Homo sapiens: one gene and its partners. The protein of the gene in region 3 interacts with the protein of the main gene of each other region in a pairwise test. Each region holds a gene or a part of one and is shown on either strand. Other genes may lie near its edges.

Evidence for each region.
Region 1: the proteins of TAL1 (region 3) and NCAPG2 interact in a two-hybrid assay, tested with the Homo sapiens proteins (one study listed by BioGRID).
Region 2: the proteins of TAL1 (region 3) and RUNX1 interact in binary tests that used the Homo sapiens proteins (3 or more experiments, as listed by UniProt).
Region 4: the proteins of TAL1 (region 3) and PRKCQ interact in a two-hybrid assay, tested with the Homo sapiens proteins (one study listed by BioGRID).

Annotation. Positions count from the first base shown.
Region 1 is NC_000007.14:158,652,800-158,659,822, reverse strand, and holds part of NCAPG2 (condensin-2 complex subunit G2), read left to right. Parts: intron 1-1,414; coding exon 1,415-1,485; intron 1,486-3,117; coding exon 3,118-3,271; intron 3,272-3,389; coding exon 3,390-3,563; intron 3,564-4,367; coding exon 4,368-4,484; intron 4,485-4,564; coding exon 4,565-4,705; intron 4,706-5,033; exon of another isoform or gene 5,034-5,128; coding exon 5,129-5,228; intron 5,229-7,023. UniProt on the Homo sapiens protein: Regulatory subunit of the condensin-2 complex, a complex which establishes mitotic chromosome architecture and is involved in physical rigidity of the chromatid axis.
Region 2 is NC_000021.9:34,885,286-34,892,308, forward strand, and holds part of RUNX1 (runt-related transcription factor 1), read right to left. Parts: intron 4,797-7,023; exon of another isoform or gene 4,608-4,796; coding exon of another isoform or gene 4,392-4,607; intron 4,187-4,391; coding exon of another isoform or gene 3,521-4,186; exon of another isoform or gene 1,828-3,520; coding exon of another isoform or gene 1,812-1,827; coding exon 1,558-1,811; intron 1-1,557.
Region 3 is NC_000001.11:47,229,203-47,236,602, reverse strand, and holds the start of TAL1 (T-cell acute lymphocytic leukemia protein 1), read left to right. Parts: upstream 1-4,377; 5' UTR 4,378-4,436; intron 4,437-4,713; exon of another isoform or gene 4,714-4,755; intron 4,756-4,887; exon of another isoform or gene 4,888-4,946; intron 4,947-5,340; exon of another isoform or gene 5,341-5,556; intron 5,557-5,561; exon of another isoform or gene 5,562-5,693; intron 5,694-6,831; exon of another isoform or gene 6,832-6,949; intron 6,950-7,251; 5' UTR 7,252-7,400. UniProt on the Homo sapiens protein: Implicated in the genesis of hemopoietic malignancies. It may play an important role in hemopoietic differentiation. Serves as a positive regulator of erythroid differentiation.
Region 4 is NC_000010.11:6,493,265-6,500,287, reverse strand, and holds part of PRKCQ (protein kinase C theta type), read left to right. Parts: intron 1-1,729; coding exon 1,730-1,892; intron 1,893-3,036; coding exon 3,037-3,068; intron 3,069-3,167; coding exon 3,168-3,253; intron 3,254-6,911; exon of another isoform or gene 6,912-7,023. UniProt on the Homo sapiens protein: Calcium-independent, phospholipid- and diacylglycerol (DAG)-dependent serine/threonine-protein kinase that mediates non-redundant functions in T-cell receptor (TCR) signaling, including T-cells activation, proliferation, differentiation and survival, by mediating activation of multiple transcription factors such as NF-kappa-B, JUN, NFATC1 and NFATC2.

The DNA of each region.
Region 1 (7,023 bases), on a different chromosome or scaffold from region 3:
AGACATTTTCTTCCCATATTGTTAGTTGGGGGTAAGGATGGGTCACTGTGAATGCAAATTAATTCCTAATCAAATTTTGATTTTGGTTTGTTTCTGTTTCATATGTATTTTCAGGAAAATTATTATTATTATCATTATTTTAGGATTCACCATGTCCTCATTCTCCCAGCCAAGAATATCTCTTATTGAGTGTTCTTGAGGAAGGGTGGATGTACCCCCTTTTACTTATTGTTTTAGTAATAATAATTTAGCTGCAATTTACTAAGCACTGAGGACACTCTAAATACTGTACTGGGATTCTGTGTGGTGTAGTTCACTTTGGTTCTTCCAACAGTCCTGTGTTCCTTTTGCAAAGGGAGAAACTGACTCTGAGAGCTTAACTCCTCTCCTCTGTGCTATGTCAGCTGTTGGGCTACAGAATCTGATTGGGTCTAGATTTGGTTCAGTAGCCTCAAAGCTTACTTTTTTTTTTCTTCTTTTTTTTTTTTTTTTTGAGATGGAGTCTTGCTCTTGTCACCCAGGCTGGAGTGCAGTGGCACAATCTCAGCTCACTGCAGCCTCTGCCTCCTGGGTTCAGGCGATTCTTCTGCCCCAGCCTTCCGAGTAGTTGGGATTACAGGCGTGAGCCACCATGCCTGGCTAATTTTGAATTTTCAGTAGGAACAGGGTTTCACCATGTTGATCAGGCTGCTCTCGAACTCCTAACCTCAGGTGATCCAGCTGCCTCAGCCTCCCAAAGTGCTGGGATTACAGGGGTGAGCCACTGTGTCTGGCCTTTTTTTTTTTTTTTTTTTTTTAAATATAATGCCCTGTTGCCCAGGCTGGAGTGAATGCTTACTGTAGCCTCTAACTGTTGACCTCACGCAGTCCTCTCACCTCAGGCTCACAAAGCGTTGGGATTAGAGGCATGAGCCACTATGCCCCACTGCATTTTCCCTTGAACTATACTGTCTTCCTAAAGATATTCTGATTTTGTTTTATAACATTTTCTCTGAATAATTTCCTTCTTTTGAGATTTGTGTTCAGGATACCAAGTGTATAGAGTTAATTTTTTTTCATTTCATCAGTGTTGTTTTTTAAAGTAGATTCAATTCATGACAGCATATGATTTTGTTTATCCTGCTTACTGGCATATTCCCAGGGTCTAGATTGGTACTGGGTACATAGCAAGTGCTTAATAAATATTTGCAAAGTAGTAAAATGTTATATAAAACTTCCATAACACTCACCAAGTAATTTTCTCTGCCCCTCAAACATGAGGCTGGTTTAAGTTTTCCTTTTGAACGTGGAAAGGACTGCCATGGTTCTTCTTGAGCAACTTTGGTAGTAAGTTATCAGGAATTTACGTAGAGAGACTTTCAGAATTTATAGTGCTTACATATGCTTTGTTTTGTTTTTCTTTTTTCGCTTTTAGGATGATCGCTGCAAGATCCCTTTATTCATGCTAATGTCCTTTATGCCGGCCTCTGCTGTCCCCCCATTCAGGTATTTGCTCTGTTTTTTGGTACGGTAGAAAAGTAGGAATCCTGTCCATTGTTGTGCTGAATTATTAATTCATGTCAGCAGACCATAACATTTAGCTTTCAGCTCACTGTGGCCTCTTCCTTCTGCCCTTCCCTCTCCCTGTGGTAGGGAAAATATCAGGATGTGATTTTCTTTTTTTTTTTTTTTTTATTGATCATTCTTGGGTGTTTCTCACAGAGGGGGATTTGGCAGGGTCACAGGACAATAGTGGAGGGAAGGTCAGCAGATAAACAAGTGAACAAAGGTCTCTGGTTTTCCTAGGCAGAGGACCCTGCGGCCTTCCGCAGCGTTTGTGTCCCTGGGTACTTGAGATTAGGGAGTGGTGATGACTCTTAACGAGCATGCTGCCTTCAAGCATCTGTTTAACAAAGCACATCTTGCACCGCCCTTAATCCATTTAACTCTGAGTGGACACAGCACATGTTTCAGAGAGCACAGGGTTGGGGGTAAGGTCACAGATCAACAGGATCCCAAGGCAGAAGAATTTTTCTTAGTACAGGACAAAATGAAAAGTCTCCCATGTCTACTTCTTTCTACAGAGACACGGCAACCATCCAATTTCTCAATCTTTTCCCCACCTTTCCCGCCTCTCCATTCCACAAAACCGCCATTGTCATCATGGCTTGTTCTCAATGAGCTGTTGAGTACACCTCCCAGACGGGGTGGTGGCCAGGCAGAGGGGCTCCTCACTTCCCAGTAGGGGCGGCCAGGCAGAGGCACCCCTCACCTCCCGGACGGGGCGGCTGGCCGGGTGGGGGGCTGACCCCCCCACCTCCCTCAAGGATGTGATTTTCAATGGGCCCTAAGTTAGTACGTGATGAAAGAAGAGACTGCATGGAACTGAAACTGTTACTCCACTTTAAGTCTGGGGTTACTCTTAGCACCTGGTGTGGGAGGTTCTGGAGCACAAGGTCACCGTTGGTCACATGTGGCCCTGAGCACCTGGGCTTTGGCTATTTGAGCTGAGATGTGCTGTGAGTACAAAATACATATGGAGTCAGCCTTGAGGCAAAAAGAAGAGTGTGAAATATTGATTACATGTTAAAATGATTTTGGATAGATTAGATTAAATAAGATTATGTTATTGAAATTAGTTTTACCTGTTTCTCTTTGTGTTTTCAAATGTGGGTACTAGAAAATTTTTAATTACATTTGTGGCTTTTGTGTCTCATAATATTTTTCATTAGAGCTCTACAATGTTGGTGATTATCTCAATAAAAATTATTTTTATTCATATTTGTGGAAGAAAAAGGAATATTTTGATGCTAAACAAAAATTGTTCTTCAAAAGTAGAAACTCTTGCTCTAGAATCTGACAGATGGCACAGAAACAGAAGGATGAGGGCTTTGTGTGGCTGCTGTGCCCTGCTTCTTCAGTGTCCAGAGCTGGTCTCAGGTCTTGTGGTGGGATGCAGCTGAGCAGCAATTGTGGGAAACTGTATTTATTCCTGCATTGGAGAGCATGGAAGTGCTAATATAATAACAAGGGCTTATGCACCGTCAGATTTTAGCTTCTTGGTTTTCCTCACCTTTTGACAAAGTTGGGGAGTCTCCGTTGAAATACTCAGTCCGATTTTCCGTCTGACATTTTCAGCTGTGGTGTGATTTCCACGCTGAGAAGCCGGGAGGAGGGCGCTGTGGACAAGAGCTACTGCACTTTGTTGGATTGCCTCTGCTCCTGGGGGCAGGTGGGGCACATTCTGGAGCTTGTTGACAACTGGCTGCCCACAGAGCATGCCCAGGCCAAGGTAGGTTGACATCATGTTTCCTTAAAATTAGGTGAGTGAGGATAACTGTGTATTAGAAATTACATGCTTTTCTAGGGACGTGTGTTTTCATTATCAGTTTCTCTCTCTCTTCTTTCAGAGCAACACAGCTTCTAAAGGTAGGGTGCAGATCCATGACACACGCCCAGTCAAACCTGAATTGGCATTGGTCTACATTGAGTATCTGCTGACTCATCCAAAGAACCGCGAGTGCTTGCTCTCTGCTCCTCGGAAGAAACTTAACCATCTTTTGAAAGCCCTTGAAACGTCAAAGGTAACTCTGTGCCCTGAGAGTTGAGTGGTTTCCTATGATTGTGGGGGTGACAAATCAAAGTGTGAAGCTTTCATATTTACAGTGCTATACAAGTGTTCTGGCTGGAACAGAATTGAGAGTGATCATGTCACCTCATTCAGTTGGTACAAGGCATGGAGCCTGGCCAGGGCAAGGTTGGGAGTCAAGTCCCAGTTGACACGTGTTCAGAAATCTCACATTTGTGTTGCACCTGCTAGGGCGCTAGGACTCAGGAGGATGGCCCCAGTGTCTCAGAACACACCCTCTGCAGGAGATGTGTCACATACCCTTTCATGTGGACACTCACTCCCTGCAGTCCTTGGCAGTTTTTTCTGGGAATGTTTGGAGAGCATTTCCTGGGAACCCATCATGCTCCCAGCTGTCCCACGGAGGCCGTCATCTCTTCCTCTCCTCCAGGAGCCAGCCCTCTGAACACCCTGTTACGCTGCCCTCAAGTGTGACTGTACCAGAAGCAAAGCCCCAGCAGAGTGGAGCCAGGCAGATGGGGAGGACGGGGCCTGGTCATGAGGCAGGGAGGGGACGGGTGGTGCTGCGTGCAGGGCAAGGGCTGTGGACGGTGAGCTGAGGCTGCTCACCTGGCTGTACATTTTCCCATACCACCCAGCACCTCATGTCCGGGTGCAGAGTCAGCAGACACTGGGCTTCACCAGAGCGGGGGTCTTTTCAGCTCGCCTGAGGATCAGGTGCTTCCCATTGTTCTTGCTGTACGGGGTGTGGTGGTGCCTTGTCAGTCAGCATGTGGCCCTTGGGTTTTTTCTATTACAGGCAGATCTGGAGTCACTTCTGCAGACACCGGGTGGGAAGCCTCGTGGCTTCAGTGAAGCAGCTGCCCCGCGAGCCTTTGGTCTCCACTGTCGCCTGAGCATCCATCTTCAGCACAAGGTGTGCCTGCTCCTGGCCCTCTATTAGGATGATACACAGTGCTCTTTTTGTTACTGATTTATCTTCTTGTTTTTGGACAGTTCTGCTCAGAAGGAAAGGTGTATTTGTCCATGTTGGAAGACACTGGCTTTTGGTTAGAAAGCAAAATTTTATCTTTTATTCAAGATCAAGAAGAAGACTACCTGAAGCTTCATAGGGTCATTTATCAGCAAATTATCCAGGTTAGAAGTCTTAAGACACAGAAAACTTTCTCTTTACCAAGTTTGTTATGTTTCAGGATTTCATTTTCTACTTTAGAGTGGTAATTTTAGACATTAGTGTTATTCTTAAAAACTTACAGGGACATTTATCTAACTTTCTAGTTTATCTTTTTGCAAAGCGTAAACTGCATACTTTCAGTGTAATTTTATACATTACATATAAGAGGTGTTCGATTATGTTTGTGGAATTACATAAAATATGTCTCTAGATTTCTTACAAAAACAAGAATTAATGTATCTTTATGAAAATTCCTTTATAAAACATCTTTATAAAAATCTGCTTTATAAGATAACTAGCACATGGATAGGAGAAGCTTTGTGAGGCTGGATTTACTCCCTTTTTAAAAATGGCCTTTGTTGCTAAGCTGTGTCTGTCTCTTACAGACCTACCTGACTGTGTGTAAAGATGTTGTTATGGTAGGCCTTGGTGACCATCAGTTTCAGATGCAACTCTTACAGCGGAGTCTTGGAATCATGCAAACAGGTACAGTCAGGGCTGTTTTAGAGCAATAAATACTCAGAACCAGTCCTTCCCTCCCTCCCTCCTTTACTGTGTAGCTCAGAACTCTCACTTTTAAGTGACTGATTATAATGCAACCTGGCATATCCCAAAAAAGGGATTTGTTAGGTGGTTCAGCCCGGAAATTAAGAGGTGTTTCTGTGTCAGACATGACTACATCCAGAGTTTGTGACAGGGTCCTTGGGATTCTGCCTGTCCTTGTGGTCAGCTTTGTTGCCAGGCTGACTTTCCCTGTGGATTGGGCTAGTGGCTATTTCCTGGCATCTGTGTGGGAAACCATCACCTTTTTGCTCTGCTCTGGTCATGTGCTCCTGTGGATGGGGGCGTGAGTCAGACATTATTGGGTGGTACCCCACCAGGACCCCCGGAAGTTGCTGTTACCACAGGGAAAGGGTTAGCACAGGGTGACCCATGGCAACAGTGAGTGAGAGGACAGCCCTCGAATCACATCAGATGATGACGGGAAAGGGTGTGGGGCCAGGGGGAGTGCAGCTGGGGTCATTCCATATCTCCTTGGCCTTCTGATCACAGTCTGGTAAAGAAGAGTACTGCTGAGCTGGGACCCTGGTCCCTGGCCCCTGACGCCTAGCCCCTAGCCCCTAGCTCCTAGCCCCTACTCCCTAACCCCTAACGGCCAGCCTCCCCCTCAGCCGCTTCTGTGGTGTAGCTGACTGCTGTGTAAACCTGTTTCTGGATGGTTTTTAAGTAGTATCCCAATATCCCAGTGCTGCATTTGATTCTCACTGAGATCTGTAAAAGCCTCAACATTTGATGTTGACATTTCTTTAAGCCTAGTTATTTGCTAGAAGAGATTGAAAATGATAACATTTAGTAAATTCAACATTAAGTTTTGAAAATTAGATTAAGTTGGTTGTCCAATTTCTAGTGGATCCATCTGTAGTCTCTTTCCCATAGCCTTAAATATCTTCATGGCAGATTCCAGAGGGGTCTGTGTGTGTGGACACCCCCAGTGTATCTGTCTTCATGACGTTGCAACTGAAGTAGATGCTAGGAGAACACTGGAGCCAGGATACTGGGCAGTGTCTTAGTTAATCTTTAATTATAAGCAAAATCATCCATCATTTGTTTAACAGATCTAAAGTTTAAGAGTAAATATTAAATAGACCAATATTATTTGCTTCAGCTTTTTTGTTTAATTATTATTATTATTTTTTTTTTTATTTTTTTTTTTTTGAGACCAAGTCTTTCTCTGTTGCCCAGGCTGGAGTGGAGTGCAGTGGTGCGACCTTGGCTCACTGCAACCTCCACCTCTAGGTTCAAGCAATTCTCATGCCTCAGCCTCCTGAGTAGCTGGGATTACAGGTGCCCACCACCATGCCTGGCTAATTTTTGTATTTTTAGTAGAGGTGAGGTTTCACTGTCTTGGCCAGGCTGGTCTCAAACTCAAGTGATCCACCCACCTTGGCCTTTCAAGGTGCTGGGATTACAGGCGTGAGCCACCATACCCAGCCTGTTTAATTCTTTATAATTCACTTCTGTTGTGAAAACAGCATTTTATACTTAAGCTTAATGATTGCAACAGTCAAAATTATTTATTTTTTAAACTTCACTTATCATTTAGGAATTATTTTCCCGTAAGGACCAAATCTACTTTTATTATTTAAAAAATTTACTTTTTGGAGGAGCTAATTATAACTAGAATTCTAGATCTCCAGTGTAGCCAGTTTCATTGTATAGGTATATCTGTTCTCTTAAAAATAAAACAGAACCAACAACACTGTTCTCTAATTCAGGTGTT
Region 2 (7,023 bases), on a different chromosome or scaffold from region 3:
GGCCCAACCCTGTTGGGTCCCCTCTCAATGCGGGTGCCCTAAAGAGTCATCGCTGAGTCCATTTAGGCAAAGGGTTAGAATGATTTAAAAGTAAAATGGTCTCCCAAACCCAAATCTAAGTAAACGGAGGGAGGGAAAAAAGAGTCAAGCAAGCCACCACGTTCCTTCGTTCCTTCTCCTCATTTCCACCCCCACTAAAAAACAAAACAAACAAAAAAAACTGCTTTTAGAAAAGTGAGTGGAAAAAGAGGCCAATCTATAGACACAGCCAACTGCAAATTTCGTTTTGTTTTAGAAATCACAATCTAAGTGTGGAAACTGTATAAAGCTTAAAAATAACCGCAACAATACTTTTTTAAAAAGTGAATATTCGTCGTTGTAATAAGATCAAGACCCAGCTGAGGCTTGGAACTATAAAAAGCTTATATTAAATTAATCTCCCTTTAAAGGGGACAATTATTTAAACTTTTTTTTTAGTAGCTTATCTTTACACTTGGAACCACCTGCCTTGATTCGCCCTTTAAACGAACAGGAAATGACCCGCACTGATTTTACTTAGTCGCATCTTTTCAAACCCACCAAAGACAAAACAGAATCTCCACTGCAGAAATTAAATTCCTACTGCTTGCTGCTAGTGTAGTAGGGTGATTGTTTAGAAACGCCTGGGGTTGTTTTCATACCCCTGTTGAAGGTCAAGGTTTTTAAAGGCAGCTCAAAGCTTTGGGGATGATCAGGGGTGAAAAGTGAAGGGAGATCTTTGGAGCCGCCGCGCTGAAGTCTCCGGCTACGCGCCGCCCCCTCCTCTAGCAGGAAAGCGGGCCGCTGGGACCCCTGGCTCTCCGAAAACAGCCTCGTCACCTTTCGCTACCCCTGGCTTAATCTAGGTGAGCTGATGATAGCATTCAGAACGGTTCCGGGAAAAGAAACAGGATTCGATACTTGCGGCTTCTGGCAGGAGCAGGCTAAAAAGCTCAGAGAACTCTTCAGAAAACTTTTGCAAACTTAACTACGCCCGCTGTGGACTTTGGACATGCTAATTCCTATAGGGCGGTTAGAGAAGGGGAAAAAAAATCCCTGACAGTTTCCCTAGTTAGTTTCTTTTCACTGACTTGAAGGCAGAAAAGTCTTACTATTTTATTTCCTGATCCTTTCATCTGAGGAAGACAAAATGGTTTGGGTGTTAATCCAGCGGTAGGGGCAGCAGTAAGTTAGCAGACGGGCTGTCTCTGCCGGGCTGGGTTATAACTTTTCCTACTTTGTATCAAAGCTAAGGCCCCTGCCAGGGAGGTCCCGACCGGCTCCCAGTGGATATCTTTGGGGACACCCTGATGTTTTCAGCCCTCCTGGGAGGCCGCCCCAGAAAGCTGAGACGAGTGCCTCCCGAGGGTCGCCACGGCAACACAGCATCCCCCACATCCCAAGCTAGGAAGACCGACCCGGGGCTGCGGGGGCCCCTTTCCAGAATCCGGCCCCGCCCGCCTGGCCGCTGCCCTCGCGGATCTCCCCCGGCCTCGCCGGCCTCCGCCTGTCCTCCCACCACCCTCTCCGGGCCAGTACCTTGAAAGCGATGGGCAGGGTCTTGTTGCAGCGCCAGTGCGTAGGCAGCACGGAGCAGAGGAAGTTGGGGCTGTCGGTGCGCACCAGCTCGCCCGGGTGGTCGGCCAGCACCTCCACCATGCTGCGGTCGCCGCTCCTCAGCTTGCCGGCCAGGGCAGCGCCGGCGTCCGGGGCGCCCAGCGGCAACGCCTCGCTCATCTTGCCTGGGCTCAGCGCGGTGGAAGGCGGCGTGAAGCGGCGGCTCGTGCTGGCATCTACGGGGATACGCATCACAACAAGCCGATTGAGTTAGGACCCTGCAAACAGCTCCTACCAGACGGCGACAGGGGCGCGGATCTTCAGCAAGCAGCTCCCGGGAGACCAACATACACGTTCAGGGGCCTTTATTACTGCGGGGGGTGGGGGGGGGCGGGGGTGGTTAGGGGAGGAGGGAGACTAAGTTACTAACAGTCCAGGAGGGGAAAACGTTCTGGTTCTGCGGATCGGCCTCTGACCCAGGATGGGCTCCTAGCAACCGATTGCTTAGTGCATTAAAAAGTGGAGACTATCTTCCACGAATCTTGCTTGCAGAGGTTAAGTTCTGTCTTTGGCTGTTAGAAAAGTTCCTGAAGGCAAAATTCTCATACACTTCCTAAAATATTTATGCGAAGAGTAAAACGATCAGCAAACACATTATTTGGAAGTTCCAGTAGTTAATGCCTGTCAGTTTTTTGCAGGTGAGTTTTGTCTAAAGTCCCAACAGAACACAATTATCTCCCGTAACAAGGCCACTTTTATCATGCAAAACTGGCTTCAGTCCCGAAAAGCAAGAGCTGAGACTTCCAAAGGTAGTGCTACTAATGTATGTGCACGTATATATAAATATATACATATGCTCTACTTCATAAAATATTTACAATACAATCTGTGGAGAATTTAAACACAACAGAAATCCATTAATGTACGCTGCAGATTTTTTTAAGTAGCCTTGAAAATCAGCTTCAGTAGTTGGAGCAGTGCTGAGCTAGAAGTACTTGTCATGTTCTCTGTTCTCTCAATGAATTCTGTCAAAACGCTCAGTGCAGAAAATTCAGCGTTTCAGAGATCTTCAGCTAATCTTAAAACAACAATCATAAGAAGGCCCAGTCGATGACACTCAGGGTTCTACAGCTCTCCCACATCTGTGAACTCGGGTTTGGGGATGTTGGTTAAGTTTGTGGCTGGTCCTCTGGTTTGTTGGGAGTTGAGCAGCCGCAGAGTCACACACATGCAAACACGCACTCTTCGGAAGGCAGCCACTGTCTACATCAGCTGGGTGACTCAGCCCTGACTCGGGCAGCAGCGAGACGATACTCCTCCACCGTCGCCCAGCACCCGCCGGTTAGCTGCTCCGAGGCACGAACACCCACGAGCGCCGCGTAACCGCAGCAGGTGGAGCGGGCCTTGAGGGAGGGCTCCGCGGCGCAGATCGAAACAGATCGGGCGGCTCGGGTTACACACGCACGCACATCCTGCCACGCACACTGCCACGCACACGCAACTTCACGGCTCGCCTCGGACCACAGAGCACTTTCTCCCCCTGTTGTAAAAGGAAAACAATTGGGGAAAAGTTCGCAGCCAGGAAAGAAGTTGAAAACATCCAGCCAAGAAGCCAGTTAATTCAAAAGGAAGAAAGGGGAAAAACAAAAAAAAACAACAAAAAAAGGAAGGTCCAACGCAGGCCAAGGAGAAGCAGCAGAGGTTGACTTCCTTCTGGCGTCCCTAGGAGCCCCGGAAAGAAGTGCCTGGCGGCGCAGGGCCGGGCAGCGTGGTGCCCTGGCTGGGTCCGGCCGCGGGGCGCCCGTCCCGCCCGCGCCCGCTGGCTCTATGAATGAGAGTGCCTGGAAATGAACGTGCTTTTACTGTAAGCCCGGCCGGAGGAATTCCATTCCCTCAGCTCGTTTGCATAGGGGCGGCCGGCGGCCAATCACAGGCCTTTCCGGTATCAGCCAGGGCGCGGCTCGCCGCCGCCGGCTCCTGGAATTGGCCCGCGCGCCCCCGCCGCCGCGCCGCGCGCTACTGTACGCAGCCCGGGCGGGGAGTCGGAGGCCACCCCCGCGCCCCGCATCCAAGCCTGCATGCTGGCCCGGGGCCCCGCCCGCGTGCGGACCCCTTTCCGCAGCCACACGCAGGCTTGTGCGGCTCCGCGAGTGGCCACGGTCCGGAGACCTGGAAAAAGAAAGCAGGCCCCGCCGGCCCGAGGAGGACCCGGCCGGCGCGCCGCACCCGGAGAGGCCCGGCCCCGCGAGCCGCTGCAGGCAGGCGCAGTGGCCGCCACGAGGCTCCCGAACCGGGCTGCAGCCCGCGGACGGCCCCAGATCCTGCGCGGCCGCCCAGGGCCAGGCCTCCGCTTCCAGGGCGGGGGTGCGATTTGGCCGCGGGGCCCGGGGGAGCCACTCCGCGCTCCTGCACCGTCCGGCTGGCAGCTGCGGCGAAGCGGCGCTGATTCCTTGCATGAGGCCGGACGGCGTCCGCGCGTGCCGTTTGCTCTCAGCGTCTTCCCTTGGGTCGGTTTCTGTAATGGGTGTTTTTTACCGCTGCGCCCGGGCCGCGGCTCGATCCCTCCGCGCGTCTCACTTGCTGCGTGCGTCAGCGGCCAGCGAAGAGTTTCCTAGTCAGGAAAGACCCCAAGAACGCGCGGCTGGAAGGAAAGTTGAAAGCAGCCACGCGGCTTGCTCCCGGGCCTTGTAGCGCCGGCACCCGCAGCAGCCGGACAGCCTGCCCGGGCCCCGCGTCTCCCCTCCGGCTCCCCGGAAGCGGCCCCCGCTCCTCTCCCCGCCCCCGTGCGCTCGAGCGGCCCCAGGTGCGGAACCCACCCCGGCTTCGCGTGCGGGCGGCCGCTTCCCCCTGCGCCGGTCCCCGCGGTGCTGCGGGCATTTTCGCGGAGCTCGGAGGGCCCCGCCCCCGGTCCGGCGTGCGCTGCCAACTCCGACCCCGCCCGGCGGGGCTCCCTCCCAGCGGAGGCTGCTCCCGTCACCATGAGTCCCTCCACGCCCTCCCTGCCGGGCCCTGCACCTCCCGGGGCCTCTCATCCACCCCGGGGCTGCAACCCAGTCCCCGGATCCCGGCCCCGTTCCACCGCGGGCTGCTTTGTGGTCCCCGCGGAGCCCCTCAATTAAGCTCCCCGGCGCGGGGGTCCCTCGCCGACCTCACGGGGCCCCTGACGCCCGCTCCTCCCTCCCCCAGGGCTAGGGTGCTGTGGCCGCTGCCGCGCAGGGACTGTCCCCGGGCGTTGCCGCGGGCCCGGACGCAGGAGGGGGCCGGGGTTGACTGGCGTGGAGGCCTTTCCCGGGCGGGCCCGGACTGCGCGGAGCTGTCGGGACGCGCCGCGGGCTCTGGCGGACGCCAGGGGGCAGCAGCCGCCCTCCCTGGACGCCGCGCGCAGTCCCCGGAGCTCCCGGAACGCCCCCGACGGCGCGGGGCTGTGCGGCCCGCCTCGTGGCCTTCGGGTCGCCCGGGAAGAACTAGCGTTCGAGGATAAAAGACAGGAAGCCGCCCCAGAGCCCACTTGAGCTGGAACGGCCAAGGCGCGTTTCCGAGGTTCCAATATAGAGTCGCAGCCGGCCAGGTGGGGACTCTCGGACCAGGCCTCCCCGCTGTGCGGCCCGGTCGGGGTCTCTTCCCGAAGCCCCTGTTCCTGGGGCTTGACTCGGGCCGCTCTTGGCTATCTGTGCTTCAGGAGCCCGGGCTTCCGGGGGGCTAAGGCGGGCGGCCCGCGGCCTCAACCCTCTCCGCCTCCGCTCCCCCTGGGCACTGCCAGCACCCGAGTTCAGTTTTGTTTTAATGGACCTGGGGTCTCGGAAAGAAAACTTACTACATTTTTCTTTTAAAATGATTTTTTTAAGCCTAATTCCAGTTGTAAATCCCCCCCTCCCCCCGCCCAAACGTCCACTTTCTAACTCTGTCCCTGAGAAGAGTGCATCGCGCGCGCCCGCCCGCCCGCAGGGGCCGCAGCGCCTTTGCCTGCGGGTTCGGACGCGGCCCGCTCTAGAGGCAAGTTCTGGGCAAGGGAAACCTTTTCGCCTGGTCTCCAATGCATTTCCCCGAGATCCCACCCAGGGCTCCTGGGGCCACCCCCACGTGCATCCCCCGGAACCCCCGAGATGCGGGAGGGAGCACGAGGGTGTGGCGGCTCCAAAAGTAGGCTTTTGACTCCAGGGGAAATAGCAGACTCGGGTGATTTGCCCCTCGGAAAGGTCCAGGGAGGCTCCTCTGGGTCTCGGGCCGCTTGCCTAAAACCCTAAACCCCGCGACGGGGGCTGCGAGTCGGACTCGGGCTGCGGTCTCCCAGGAGGGAGTCAAGTTCCTTTATCGAGTAAGGAAAGTTGGTCCCAGCCTTGCATGCACCGAGTTTAGCCGTCAGAGGCAGCGTCGTGGGAGCTGCTCAGCTAGGAGTTTCAACCGATAAACCCCGAGTTTGAAGCCCGACAAAAAGCTGATAGCAATCACAGCTTTTGCTCCTTGACTCGATGGGATCGCGGGACATTTGGGTTTCCCCGGAGCGGCGCAGGCTGTTAACTGCGCAGCGCGGTGCCCTCTTGAAAAGAAGAAACAGACCAACCTCTGCCCTTCCTTACTGAGGATCTAAAATGAATGGAAAGAGGCAGGGGCTCCGGGGAAAGGGAACCCCTTAGTCGGCCGGGCATTTTACGGAGCCTGCACTTTCAAGGACAGCCACAGCGTGTACGAAGTGAGGAATTCCTTTCCACCAAGAGCGCTCATTTTAGCGACAATACAGAATTCCCCTTCCTTTGCCTAAGGGAGAAAGGAAAGGAAACATTACCAGGTTCATTCCCAGTGTTTCCCTGGAGTAATGCTAGAATTTACTTTTGTCATAATGCAAAATTAAAAAAAAAAAAAATACAACGAAGCGATACGTTGGGCGGATGCTACGTGACAGATTTTTCCAAATTTTGTTGCGGGGAGAGGGAGGGAGGAGAATTGAAAACGGCTCACAACAGGAATGAAATGTACATTTCTGCAGTGGATTTAAAAAGTACTGCTTGGTTAGTTGGAAGAAAAATAATTTCATTGGAAAACAGTAACAGTGCATTGACGTTTTTCTTCTACAACTTTAGGTAAAGAACTATAGGTGGTCTCAGAAGATAACTAAATCTTTTACCTTTTTGCTCTTTCAAAAGCCTCCCCAAAATATGCATAAAGATGGGATTAGAATCTCAACAATTCTCTTAAAATTACCCTTTGCGAGCAATATATTTCCAAAATCACATTTGTAAAAATGCAGTACGTCTAAAAGAATTATTTCTATTTTAAATGACCATTTACATTTTAAAAAATAGAATGTATCTTGCTATGGTTTGGAACCAAATAGCTGCAGTTTGTATTGATGTCACAGGGATGGAAAACAATTTTGATGAAGAGTAACATGTATGTACAAATCACCTGCCATACACACTATCCAGTTTTGAACATTGGAATTTAATTAAA
Region 3 (7,400 bases):
AGGCCTGGGGTGAGGCCTGAGAATTTGCTTTTCTAACAGGTTCCTCGGTGATGCTGACCATCCACTTTGAGAGCCACTGAGAGTGAAGTTCCTTCCATCCCTGAGAATTCTGACAGCAGCGTTGGGGTTTGGAAGCACAGACGTGACTCCCAAGCTCGGAATTCTTGAGGCCTGCTTACTGATGGGGTAGGGGTTCTTCCAGGGCAAGAGACAGAGGCAAAAATGGAGAGAATAGTCCTTTGAAAGTGGAAGAGGGAAATAATGACATTTCCTCAAATTGAAATTTTCCTCATTAAAAATAATCCTTATATAAACAGTATTATGTATGGAAAATGAGCACCTCTCTTCTGCAAATAAGGAAAGTGAACCTCAGAGATTAAGTAATTTGCCTGGTATCATACAGCTGGCAACTAGGGGAGCAGGGATAGGAGCTCAGGTCTGCCTGACCATTGTGCTTGCTTTGCTGCTTTCGAAGCACTGTGGCCTGAAGCCAGACTGCCCTAGGTGTGAATTTTGCCTCCACCACTTACCTGCTGGGTGTTCTCTGCAAGTTGCTCAACCTCTCTGTGCTACCTACAAAATGGAGTAGTCCCTACTTCATTAGGTTCTTGCAAGGATTAACTGAATTAATACTTACAAAGTGCCTAGGACAGTACTTGTCACACAGTAACTGCAGTGTAGATTTGTTAAAAATAAACTCGGCTGCTCATCAGAGTGCATGCATGGCATCTTTCCGGAGAAGAAGCTCGGGGGAGAAGCTCAGAGATAGTCCAGTACTCAGAGAGGGCAGGCAGAAACACTTGAAAAATGGTAAGAGGCTTGGCTTTGGGGTTTAGGGAGAACCCAACCTTTGGTGGTGGGGAACAACGGCCTCAGGGCCAGAGCCTAGCTAGCCTGTTCTTGTCCCCTGCTCTTGCTGCCCCAGTTCCAGACTCCAGACTTACCAGTCTGGGTCTCAACCTCCCCTCCCTCCTCGCCACCCCCACCCCAGGCGCTCCGGGTTTCCTGCCCGACTGGGGCCTCCGTTTGGGGCGGGTGGAGGAGGGGTGGCATTTCCTGGCTGGCCCCGGCCTGTCACTCTCTCGTGGACGCTCGGACAACTCGCTGACCGACAGGCACCAGATGCTATTTCAGGCAGCGCCCCGCTTAGCGCACAGCTTCCGTTTTTCCACTGACCATCGGAAACAGGGGAGGGGGCAGATGTAGACGTCATGAGACCCCAGCCCCTGGCAGGGCTTTGGTGGATGAGGTCGGGAGTGGCTGCCTGACTGTCAGAATCTGGAGCTTGGCAGAGAACAAATGTGTGGAATTGGAGGGTTGGTGAACGTCACCTCCTCGCTCCACAGACAGAGGCCTGGGCACACCCTCTGCCACAGGGCTGAGAAACGCCTTTCCACCTGTCCATATTCCTTCACCACAGGAAAGGACACTTTCCTTGGAGGTGCTGGCTGGGGACATTTAATGCCCTGTAAAATAATCCAACAGTCTGCAGGTGTCTCAAAGGCATCTAAACTTAAGGAGTTCAAAACCAAATATATAAGCCCTCCCCATGTCCCCTCAGCCTCCAGGTTCCCCATCTCCAGGAATAACCACCACTAGCTCTGCAGGACAGCCAGAAACCCAGGGGTTTTCCTGGATTCCTTCCTCTCCCTCATCCCCCCAAACCCAATTCTTTTTTTGTTTGTTTGTTTGAGACAGAGTCTCGCTCTGTCGCCAGGCTGGAGTGCAGTGTCGCGATCTCGGCTCACTGCAACCTCTGCCTCCTGGGTTCAGGTGATTCTCCTGCCTCAGCCTCCTGAGTAGCTGAGACTACAGGCGTGCGCTGCCACACCCAGCTAATTTTTGTATTTTTAGTGGAGACAGGGTTTCATCATGTTGGCCAGGATGGTCTCGATCTCTTGACCTCGTGACCCGCCTGCCTGGGCCTCCCAAAGTGCTGGGATTAGAGGCATGAGCCACCATGCCTGGCCCAAATCCAATTATTATAAACCCAGTTTTATACCCCAAATACATGTCATCTTCACTTGCCTCTTGTCATCTCTTCTGCCAGCACAGTGGTCCAAGCTCTAATCCGCTTCCCCTAACCACTGCATTGGCTCCACAACTGGCCTCCCAGAGTCCTTCCCCCTCCACACTTCATCCAAAGAACTTTCTAGAAATGCAAATCTTATTCTATACAAGGTACCACCCCCACCTTCAAACCAAACAAACAAAAAAATGTCAAAAAATCTTTTAACTTGTCCACAAGCATGCTCCAGCCATACTGGACACTTTTCTATTCTTTTCACGAACCTACCACCCTTCTGTTCTAGCCCTTGGTCCAGCTGTTTCCTCAGCCCACCTGGAAGGTTCTGGATACTGATGCTTCTCCCCACCCCCCTTCTTCGCACCCCCAAATTTCACTCTTAGATCTCAGTCCAGGCCTCATTTTCTCAGAGAAGCAGTCCCCACCTGGGCTCTCCCATATGGGAATGGCTAGCCTGTTTTTACAGTGGCTCAGAGACATGAAATCACTTCTCTAAGGGTCCCACAGCCCAGGAATGGCAGAGTTGTGTTTCAGACTCAGAATTATATGACTCTCATTTTCTAATAAGTGATGGAGCCAAGCAAAGGCCTTATGGTAGGGGGGAACTAGACTTTTTCTTAGGATGTGGGATTCTGTGAGAGTTATCTGTATCCCCATGACAGCCTGACTTCCTTCAGAGAGCACAGGAGGAACAGAGGGGACAGGCGGCACTGAATTAACTGTATCTTCTCAGAGGGTCAACCTGATGACCAAGGAGAAGCCAGATCCCAGACTGGGGCCATGCTCTCTGCTCAGTCTTTGACTGGGACTCAGTTTGTTACCAGAGTAGGGGTTTTCCCCCAGTTCTCAGGCTCCAAAAAAAGCTCAAAAGCAGAGACACTAGAAGGACAAATCAGCCTGGCATGGAAAGTAGAGTTGTGGACTGGGAATTGGACACCAAAGTTTGGGTCCTGGCTTTTCCTTTGGGTTACTGTAAGTTTTGGCTAAGTCACATCTCTCTGTGTCTTAATTTCTTTCTCTATGATGATAACCAGAACTCCCATGCAAGTGCATATGATGTTTTCCTGGGCTGTGGACTGAGTGACGTTCCATACATTATTATCCTCACCACCACCTTTTAAAGGTCATATAAGTTAGTTCTCATAACTTTGTGACGTCGACATTATCTCCCCATTTTACAAATGAGAAAACTGAGGTTCAGAGATCAGTGACTAAAATTCGAACATGTGTTCTTTCCACTCCACCATGAAAGAATGAACCCAGAGACCCTCCGTGGGCTGAGCGCATCATCCAGCTGGCACTGAACTCAGATTTCTACCCCACAGTAAAGACCCTGGTCTCTGCAATGAGTTGAGCCCAGGTCCCTTTCCCTGGCTAGGTTTTGGCTGCCCCTCTTCATCAGCTGAGCCGCAGAGAAGACTCCGTGTCAAATTTCCTTCCAAGGCAGACTCCACCAAGCACTAGCTATGTATCATTCGAAAAGTTACTTTGACTTTCTGTGCCTCAGTTTTCTCTTCTGTAAATTAAGGATCCAGCTTCTCAGGACTGTTTGTGAAGAGTAGATTAGTATTTGCAGAATGCCTAGAATAGTGTTACAGTCGCTAGATTAAACTTTTTTTTTTTTTTTAAATACCATGTGGGGAGCAGTGTTCCTGGGCTCTGGGCTCAGCCTGAAACCTAGCAGAATAGGCATTTTATGTCCCTATTGACAGGGGTTCTGCCAGGCCGCCGTAGAGCCCATGGATTTGAGTTACCGGCTCTATTTTAGAAGGGGGTGAAGAGGTAGGGAAGGGCTGGGGAGCTTTCTGGGATAGGGAGACTGCCCATTGAAATCTGGGTGTCTGGGACACTGGAGGAAGAATAAGAAAGAAGCCCTGGGAGGTGACGATTTTGGTATCATGGTGGTCTTCAGAGGTAGGGACAGAGTGCTGGGGTGAGAGTCGCTGAAGAAAGGTGTCTGAAAGGTTAAGGGACTGAGGTTGTGGGAAGCTGGGGTTCCTGAGAGGCCTTGGGATTAGAGATGGGGGCTGGATCTGCTGGGTCCTAGACAGCGCGTCCAACGCTCCCCGCAGCGCGTTCCGGAGCCGGTCCTAGCGCCGCTCAACCAGTCCCCACTCCCTCCGGTGAAATTGCCAAATTAAAATGAATCATTTGGCCCATAATGGCCGAGGCGCTTATCGGGGGCGGGCGGACCCGCGGCAGTGCCTTATCTCTGCGGCGCACACGGCCCCGGCGCGCCTCGGCCCATGCTAACGAGGCCTGGAACGTGAGTGGGATTACAGCGCGTCGGTGGAGGGGCCGGGCGGGCGCGGGGCGGGCGGGGGAGCGGGGGCCGCGGGAGGGGCCGGGCCGCCGCCGCTCAGGACCGGGCCTCAAAATGGCCACACGCGTACCCCCGTAGCGGAAAAACGTGAGCATTCTGGCCTTTTTCTAGGGGAAAAGCAACCCGCGGCCTCCCACCGAATTCTTCATCAATTTCCTCCTCTTTTTCCCCACGTCCGCAAAAGAGGTCTTCGCTCCCTTTCCCTCGGTTCCTTTCGATGGCCGGGGGGGGCGGTGGGGGGGCATTTTCCACGGACGCCCCCGCCCCGGCTGCCGCCGCCCCTCCCGCCTCGGAGACTCTCTTCCTTCCTTCCCCCTTTTCCTTACGCAATATACAGAAATGCGCGAGGCTGTGGTTGGTTTTCATTTCTTCTTCGTGGTTGTGTGCATGCGGTGGGATTGTGAGAGTGCGTTCATGAGAACTGTGGGCGGCGTTGGCTGCTTCTAAGTGTGGTCTTCTTGGCGACAGGCTCTGTGTCCGAGTGTGGTGTGCCTGCGCGGTTGGGGTGTGTAGATGTGGACCCTTCGAGGCCCTTCTGCGTTTTCTTCGTTGCGTACGATTGTGCTCCGTTGGTGTTCTCAGCAGGGATCTGATTCTGTGTGTGGGGGTGTGTGGCCCCTGCGACTGTGTTTGGGTGGTGTCGTCGTTATGTCGGGCGTGTGTGATCCCGACTGTGCTGGATTGTGTGTCCGTGAGCCGCTGCGTTTGACTGATTTCGTTGTGTCCTGTTGGGCAGTGTGCGGGGCTGACCAAGTCGGCTTCTGGGGCAGTGCTAGGTGGTGTTTGTTTGCTGCCCTTCTGTGGGGCTGGACCCTGTGTGGTCCTGTCCGCACTGAGTTGTATGCCTGTGTGCCTGTGTCCTTTAGAGGTGCGTTTGCAAATCGCTGGGGGCGGGAGTGGGGGGAGGGCGAGCGAGAGATCGAGGCGCTGGTGGGGGCGGCGGCATGGGGGCGGGGAGCGGGATTTCACATTTTATTCCAAATTATGATGTATTCGGGAGCCAGTTGTTGGCTTGGGTGGGCGGACAGCGCCCGGTCGGCGGCTGCTCTGCCCGGAGGCCCGCCTGTGCCTAGGTGTTTGAGGGGTTCGTTGGTGAGTGGGAGGCTCCTCCAGGCTTGAAGCTGAGCAGCGCTCGCCGAGGCCGGCGCCTTCGAGCCGGTAGCTGCGGGCTTCGGTTCCCGCTGCACTCCGGCTTCATCCATTTCTGGTCAGTTTCGTGGGTGCGGCCGCCGGGCTCCAAGGGAGAGGCCCCGAAAGGACAATGGGCACATTCACCAGGCCTCGAGCCTCGGGTGGGGACATTCGGGATCACCTCCTGGGAAGATTTTCCCGCCCCCTCTTCGGGTGAGCGACGTTGCCGCTTGGGTCTGATACCCGTCGCATCCGAGACCGAGGCCGAATCCGGGCTCTGGGAGGGACCGGGTTAGTGGGGCCCTAGCTCGGGTTGAAAGAATTTTGTTTTGTCAATTATTGTAATTGCTAATGCCATCACCATCACAATCGTCATCATTAACATCTATTTTAATTAAAATAATCATCCCAGAGCGCAGCAGTTTGTCCCTTTTGGCTCCTTTGGCGGGAGAACAAAGCAGCGGGTTTTTTTCCGCTACAGCCGTTTTCTAAGTTGCTGGGTTTGAGGTAGGAAGAGAAAATGGAGAGAGGCACGGACACAGAGACTTGGTCATAAGGCAAACATTAACCCCCAGCGAACACGCAACATTAACCCCCCGCGAACACGCCGGGAATGGATGGATTCCCCTCTTCTTTCCTCCCCTCCCCTCTTTTGGATTAGAAGAGGAGAAAGAAAATCTTCCGCATTGTATTGCAATCCAGGGAAGAATTATTCCTATATGTCCACCAAAGCCGCGGCAAATAGAAGGAGGCCTTCGCAGTTAATCCAAGACTTCGATGTGTGATCATAAGCCTGACGATTTAGGCAAAACAAATTAAACAAAATCCACTAGGAAAAAATAAAAGCAAGCTCAATCCTGCTACATCCTTGAAAGTAGTGTCGGGTTTGTTTTTACCTCCTTTCCTTTTACCTTGTTTATTGCTGTAACAAATCATTAGAATTCTCCCTTACTCTGTCTAAACCCCGAAAAATCGAAAATCATTTCGTAGGGGTGGTGGAGGGGAAGGTGGGGGACTTTTCCCCTTTGTTTCTTTCTTTCCCCCTTTGTTGGTCTTTATTTCCTTTTCTTTTTCTGTCTCTCTCTTCCTCTCTCTTTCTTCTTTCTCTTAATCAGTAGGGAGACGAGAAAGGACCTGAACAGATCAGATATCTCTCTCCAAGCCCCCTTCCCAACTCCATTTCTGTAGGAAAGTACAGCCCCTGGAATTGGGTTCTGGTTTCGCTTTGGGCTGGAGGTGGGTGGATGGGGGTCAGAGAGAGAATGAGGTGGGGGGGACTTCAAGGTTCTGTCCCACCGACCAGAGTCTGAAGACTATTCGCCTTTCCCAACACGGACCTCCGCCCATCCAGGCCCGGGACTATCCCTTCGCGGTGTAGCGGCAGCCGGAGACCTGGCTGAGGAGGCAACCGCGTAGACACCTCCCTGCTTAGAAAACAAACACTGAACCAGACCGATCCCAGTTGGAGGGTTCGAAAATGTTCCAGACAGCCTGTCGGGAGGGGTTGTTGTTGCTGTTGGACTAAATAGCTATTCCTGATTGGTCATGTATAGGGTTTTTTAAGGCGGGTGGGGGGAGGAGGGGGTAGAGGAAAGGCTCCAAACACCTGCAGGTTGGGGGCGGAAAGCTGTTTGCGATTCCCTGGACTGGTTGGTCGGGGACAGGAGGTAATTCCCAGCCATTGACCCCCATTTCTCTCTCTCCCTCCCTCTTGCCCTGCCTCTTTCTCTCCACCCCTATCTTTCCTGGAAACTCGCTTTGGGCGCGGCAGATCGCCCAGGACCACACCGCAGCGTAACTGCAGGCCTCTCAGCGAAAAAGGGGGAAAGCAAAGACCCGGGTGTGCATCCTCTTCCTCGGCTTCCGCCCCTTTCCGGCGGAGTGGAGATCCTATTCAGAGGGGCCGGTCTCTCTAAATAT
Region 4 (7,023 bases), on a different chromosome or scaffold from region 3:
TATTTTTATTTTATTTTATTTCATCTGGACCAAAATAGAAACAAGTCACATGTTATAAACAAATGACCTACTATACTAGTCACAAGTTGTAAATAGATTTGGACATTTAGACCAGAACTTGTGGAAGAAGGTGATTAACTCAGTGATCCTTAATTTAACCCCTCATTTACCAAGCCAAATCTATTATTTCCAGCCTAGTTCCAGGTAAAAAGACCAAAATTACCTACTCTTAAAGTATTAGGCAAAGTATTATGTCCCATCTGTGGAACTGTTAGAGGGTTACTGGAAATGCTTTTTGTCTGGAAGTTGGGGTTGCCATAAAACAAATCTGCGGACACTACAGAAAAGACTTCAGTCCTACAATGTGTCCTGGGATGTGGCTGGATTCCTGGGGGAGGTTTCTACCCACACAGCTCCTCCTTTGTCTACCTAGAGTGTTTCTAATCTAGCCACTGTTAGGGATTGGACAATAAGGTATCTTGGAAGATAATTTGCCCCAAACGCATTGTCAGGCTACTGCCACTGCTTAGCCACAATAGAAGAAATTTAGTTTGAATATTATTAACTCATTGTGAAATATGATGAACCTGCTTTTTAAATGAAACCTCAATGTTTTGTATTTGTAACAAAATAGAAGAAGTAATCCAAGAGTCTTCAAGCTATTACAAAATTATAACTCTGGGATTTAAATTCATTATCCTTATTTATTTATTCACATATTTATTTGTGTATCATTTTTGTTACAGCAGTGGATATTTTTATTTCTTTACTGTTCCTTGTGTTATTCTCTCTCACCTGCTGTGTCCACTGTGCTGTTTAACCATGACTGCCTTACAATTTGGTGTTTCATGAGGACCTGGGCTTCAGCAAGGGCATCCTGAGCATTCTCATAATTTGACTATCTTAGTTTTTCAACCCTTTGGAAAGATGTCATTCAGGTATAGGGCACTGTAAACAGTGACTATCCAAAGCACTTTCACCAATATTTATGAGCCCAGAGTAAAATGAATAGATTGAATCTGATGGTTTGATGCTGATGACTAGGTAATGCACAGGATTACCTAGACACCAAAAAAATGCAGTGAGCTATTAATTTTCTGGCCTTTTTCACATTGGTAAATATGGTTGGCAGCTGGTGTGTCTGATCACTGTGGACATCAGGAACCAGGACACAATGTCCCAAAGTTCCTTTCTCCTCACACAAAATCCTGGTCAGCTCCCCCTAGTCTACTCCAGCATGTCTCCAACAACCTGCTATAAAGCATCCTGGCACCTCTGAAATGCTGTTCCCAAGAGGCTGTCAGTAACCATGTGATTCTCTAGAATTACAGACAGGAAAGCCTTTGCCACTTCCTGCCTTTTCTGACTGAGTCATCATTGATGGTGACAAAGAGAGGTTGATAGATCCCTTCAAAGTTCTAATCTCTGGTTTTGAAACTTGAAGAGGATATATCGCTCAGCCCAGTCAAAGAGGAGCGAAGGATTGAGCCAGCAATCCAACATTGTTTTCACCCTCTAACAATATGCCCTATGATGAATCTGTGTTGTAGAATTTGAGGAAAGATGCTTAGTGTGGTACCCACCATAATGAGTACCTGGAATGTTACAGCAGGTACTCAGAGCTGGTCCTCCTCCATCCCTTGCCCATCTCCCTCCCCTCCTGACCCAGCTTAGAATAGGAGTCGTCCTTTTGCAGAACTTCACTTTCTTCCCCTCTCTCTTCCTGTAGACACAAAGGACATGAATGAATTTGAGACGGAAGGCTTCTTTGCTTTGCATCAGCGCCGGGGTGCCATCAAGCAGGCAAAGGTCCACCACGTCAAGTGCCACGAGTTCACTGCCACCTTCTTCCCACAGCCCACATTTTGCTCTGTCTGCCACGAGTTTGTCTGGTACAGTAACTTGGCATCTCCCTCCAAGCTTCGGGTTATGCATTTTGTTGCGTCTTCTTAATCCTCTACGCTGGCATGCTCCACTGTGGGGGGTGTGCTGGAGTAAATGCTACCTCAGCGTTGTCAGGGACCTTGCCTGAACTGAGAAGGTTCAAATGGTGTGATCCAATAAAAGAGGTGCATGAGGAAGCCAGGTCTAGTCAGGAAAAATGCCCATGGGATTTTAGTTTCTGCCTCAATGGGGGGGCTATTGGGGGTAAGTGGGAAGAAACAGAAGTGAAAGGTATCTTTATTACAAACAGTTTTCCAGTTTTATAGTCAAAACTTCCCCCACCTAATGGCCCAACCCTGCTGGTGCTACTTTTTCCAGCAGGCAGCACTCTGCCATTGTAGCTAATGGTTTAAATGCTTATGAGGCTCTTGGGTATCTTAATAGCCATCAAACAGATCAGTTTAAACCTCAGTAACCACATAGCAAAGGCTATGACAGAGTGGAGACTTGAAATAACTCCTGTTTCTGGCTCTCAGCATCCTAGCCTATTAAGGGATACTCTTCCCTTTAGGCTACTGCAGAAACTGTTAAAGCACAGCTCCTGTGTAACCAGGGTATCCACATGCCAGATCGACTTGGCGGGTTTTCATCAGCCTGCTTTCGTCTAATCACTTGAACCTCCTTTCTCTCTAATCATGGATGTCACTCAGGAATCGGTCCTGCATGTGAGACTTTGTTGGTTGCAAATATTCTCAGATGCTCAGAAAGAGGAAATAAAATGTTACAGATGTCTTTGTTCGTCTGTAGTGAGCTCAGCGAGGCCATGAATTTTTAAATCTAGCACAGGGAAACGTGCTACGAAGAGTCTGTGATGCATGCATTTTCATTCATGCATTTTAATCTCTATATGTTTGGAAAATACAAGGATGATAAATCAGCCAGTTCTCATTTATTTAATTATCAAACTTTTTAAAACGCAGCTTCAAATGAAAAACACTCTGTTAATACTCTTGGCAAATGATACAACAGGGCTGCTGATCAGAAACTGCTCTGTGATCTTAGGGGGTTATGAGATCTCATCCATCTCTTAAATGCTGTTGGTGCTGATGTTGATGCCAACATTGAAATAAATCAGCGTGTGCTTTATTACAGGGGCCTGAACAAACAGGGCTACCAGTGCCGACGTAAGTAAGAGGGTTTTGGTTGCATTACCATCATTCTTTTTATTTAGTTATTCCTTAGGCTATGAAAATCTTAAGCTGTGATTTTTTTCTTCTTTTCAGAATGCAATGCAGCAATTCACAAGAAGTGTATTGATAAAGTTATAGCAAAGTGCACAGGATCAGCTATCAATAGCCGAGAAACCATGGTGAGTATTTACACTCCTCTTTGACGTGCAGTGATTTTTATCAGAACGTTAAATGTTACAGCCCACGAATTCTTCAGAATAATGCCAGAACTTGCATCCTCCCATTTATCAGTGAACATCCATCTCCCCAAAACTCTTTCCTCTTCAATAATGATTCTTACTGAATTACCCAAACCAGAGGATGAATTAGAAATTAGCCAGGCCTGGTGGCATAAGCCTGTAATCCCAGCTACTCAGGAGGTTGAGGCAGGAGAATCTCTTGAATTCGGGAGGCGGAGGTTGCAGTGAACCAGGACCATGCCACCGCACTCCAGTCTGGGCAACAGAGTGAGACTCCATCTCAAAAAGAAAAGAAAAAAAAAAAAGAAATCTGCACTTGTACCTCCTAAATATACACAAATTATATACAGGAAGAATTTTCATTGCTCTACTTTTCCAGAAAAATGGCATAGAAAGTGGCCAGAAAGCATAGTTTAGATTAATTATATGAGAATAATCCTTGTGGCACCCCCAGCTAGAAGTGACAGTAAAAGAGTAAATAAAGGCAAATGATGATAAGATACAGCAACATGGCATTTACAAGGTTAGAGATAATAACAGAGGCATAATTTTATGTTGAGAAGCAAATATTTCTTTTAGAGTAAACGTTGAGGTATAATCGGAAGACAAATTACATTTTACCTAATGGAGGGGGGAAACTGGGCTAGCACATGGGCAGTGTATCATTATGAATTTTAAATTTTTAAAAATTTATATGTATTTAGGAGGTACAAGTGCAGATTTCTTTTTTCAATTTTTTTTTTTTTTTTTTTTTTTTTGAGATGGAATCTTACTCTGTTTACCCAGGCTGGAGTGCAGTGGTGTCATCTTGGTTCACTGCAACTTCCACCTTCCAGGATCAAGAGATTCTCCTGCCTCAGCCTCCTGAGTAGCTGGGATTACGGGCATATGCCACCACGCCTGGCTAATTTTCGTATTTTTAGTAGAGATGCGGTTTCACCATGTTGGCCAGGCTGGTCTCAAACTCCTGACCTCAGGTGATTCACCTGTCTTGGCCTTCCAAAGTGCTGGGATTATAGGCATGAGCCACCACACCTGGCCTACAAGTACAGATTTCTTCTATGCCTATATTACCTGGTGGGGAAGTCTGGGCTTCTAGTGAACCCACCATCCGAAGAGTGAATATTACACCCAATAGGTAATTTTCAATCCTCCCTCCCTCCCATCCTGCCATCTGTAGTCTCCAATGTCTATTACTCCACTCTGTCACTCATTATGAAATCTTTTGACTTCCTTCTCCCACCGTTTCCTTTTTCATTCCACAAATCCTCACTGGGTATCTGATTCATGGAAGATACCGCATTCTTCCAATGACAGCATAACACAAAACAGACGTGGTCCTGCGAAGTTGGAGAAACAGATAATAAACAGCTATGTATGGCTTCGATTTATATTAAGTGCTACAAAGATAGTGAACAAGGTGCAAGGTGGAGAGTAAGCATGTGGCCTACTGAGACTCTGTGGTCCGGGAATCTCCCCAACGGAGGGAACATTGAAACTGACAGCTGAAGAGTGACAGAGCTGGTTAGGTGAAGAGCAGGAGGAAGGAAGCTCCTTACAGGCTGGAAGACCCTGCTGAGGGAGAGTCCAATGTGTTCCAGGAACTGAAATGGGACCAGTGTGGTGACAGCTGCAAGGGCTGCGCAGACTGGAAGCCCACACTGGGGAAGGCACCAAGGCCTGGGTCATGCGGGGTTTCTTTGGAGCCTGGAAAAATGATTGTATTTTGTGCAACTTGTAGTAGAAAGCCCACTTTGGGATGCTGTAGTAGAAATAGTGCGTTGAGATGTGAAAGTGAAACCAGAGGAGATGGAAGGAATCCTCCAAGCGGGGAGGTTGGTGGTTTATACCAGTGAGACGTCAGCAGAGGTGGAGCAAAGGGGCAGGTTCTCAGGTGATTTTGATGTTAGAAATGACTGGATTTGCCAAAAGATTAGATGAAAGAGGTGGATATAAGGATGATGCCGCAGGTTCTGGCTTCTGCCCGAGGCCGAGCAGTGTGGTAGATAACAGAGCCACGACGGAGTGAAGAAGACTGGAAGGAGAGATGAATTTTTCCAGTTTGGACATGTTGAGTCGGAGAGGTGGACATCCAAGTTGAAGCATCAAATAGACAATTTCACATGAGCTTGGAATTCCTCTGGGACAAGGGCCCAACCCTATAAATTTGACAGTGACCATCATATAGGTAGATTTTAAAGTTGCTGAAGAGATTGCCTAGTGAGGAAATAGAGAAAGTTCAGGACTGACTACAAAGGAATCTAAAATGAGATGTTAGGTAGAAGATAAAGGACAGAGATAGACATTGAGAAACTGGGCTCAGAGACCGCTCCTCCTACACCCAGAGTCTATGAAGTTACAGAAACCAGAAGAAGAAGAGGTGGGTTGTGTTCTGTGCAGTTGAGGTGTTGAAATTGAGGCCCACGTGCAGATCTTCACAGGCTTAAATCAGAGAAATGTCAGGGGCATCTTGGAGGCATTAGTCTGATTGACCTGCAGAAGGGTGACTGAGGTGATGACATGAAAACAACCTGTAAGTTGATATTATGAAGAAGGTGAACCATGAAGGAGATGATGGACAGAGAACAGTGGCTGGGAAATGAGACCCCAAGGATGGCAAGTGCTCCCGTGGCCAGGGAGAGATGGATAAAGCTGGAGAGACAGATAAACAAAACAGTCAAGTCTGTTGGCAGGAAGCGAAGAGGGCCTGAGCTCTGGTGGAGACTGGTCCCTGGAGCTTCCACAGTTTAACCGGAAGGGAGTAGGGCAAGACAGTTGCTGATGGGGATGGGTGTGGAGCTTTGGTGATGGGCACACAAAGGCGCTTCCCTTAGACTGCATGTGTCCCCCATGGAGTTTGATGGCTGGAGGAAGGAAAAGAGAAAGCAACAAGTGCCTTCGAGGAAAAAGGAAGATCTATGAGATAATTATCTTAGAGAAAGCAAGGTGACTCGTGAAAAGCAGTCAGACTGTGGAGCAGAGCTGAAAGTCCATTTGAATTTGACGGAGTCAGCCTGCTCAGGAGTATGATTTTCTCCAACAAAGGGGCAGGTTCAGAGAAGGCGAAGTGGCTGGGTTTTTCCAGAGTAGAATTTCTCCTAACATTTAGAAGCAGAAGGAGATAAACTTGTGCTAACCGGTGATTCTGCTAAGACTCAAAGAGGTTAAAGTAGTTTGTTCATGTTTGATCACCTGTACGTGGCAGAGCTGGTACTAAAATTAAGATCACAATCTCTCAGACCATGTTTTTGCTTGCTTAGATCAAATTTTCACCTCCCAGACTTCTTCCTTTACTTGATGCCTTCAGCTTTTCTAGAAAAAAACGCAAATCTCTGAATCACTGTTAACCTCAATGACTAACAAAGTTCCTGGTACAAAGTCTTGAGAAACTGTCAGCTACATAAATAAATGTCTGTGATATTATCTTCTCCCAGGATATTTTGATTTCTTGTTCACTCAAGGGGACATCATCTTTGGGATTCTTTTGTTCCTCTACCCCTGGAGCAGTATTGTCCGATAGAAATAAATAGAATGAGGGCTACATGTGTAATTTTACATTTCCAAGTAGCCCACATTAAATAAAGGAAAAAGCAATGGGTGAAATTAATTTTAATAATACATTTTATTTAATCCAATCTGTTCAAATATCATTTCAACAAAAAATCGACATTTGAAAAATTCAGATATCTTAAGTAATTTTATACAAAAGT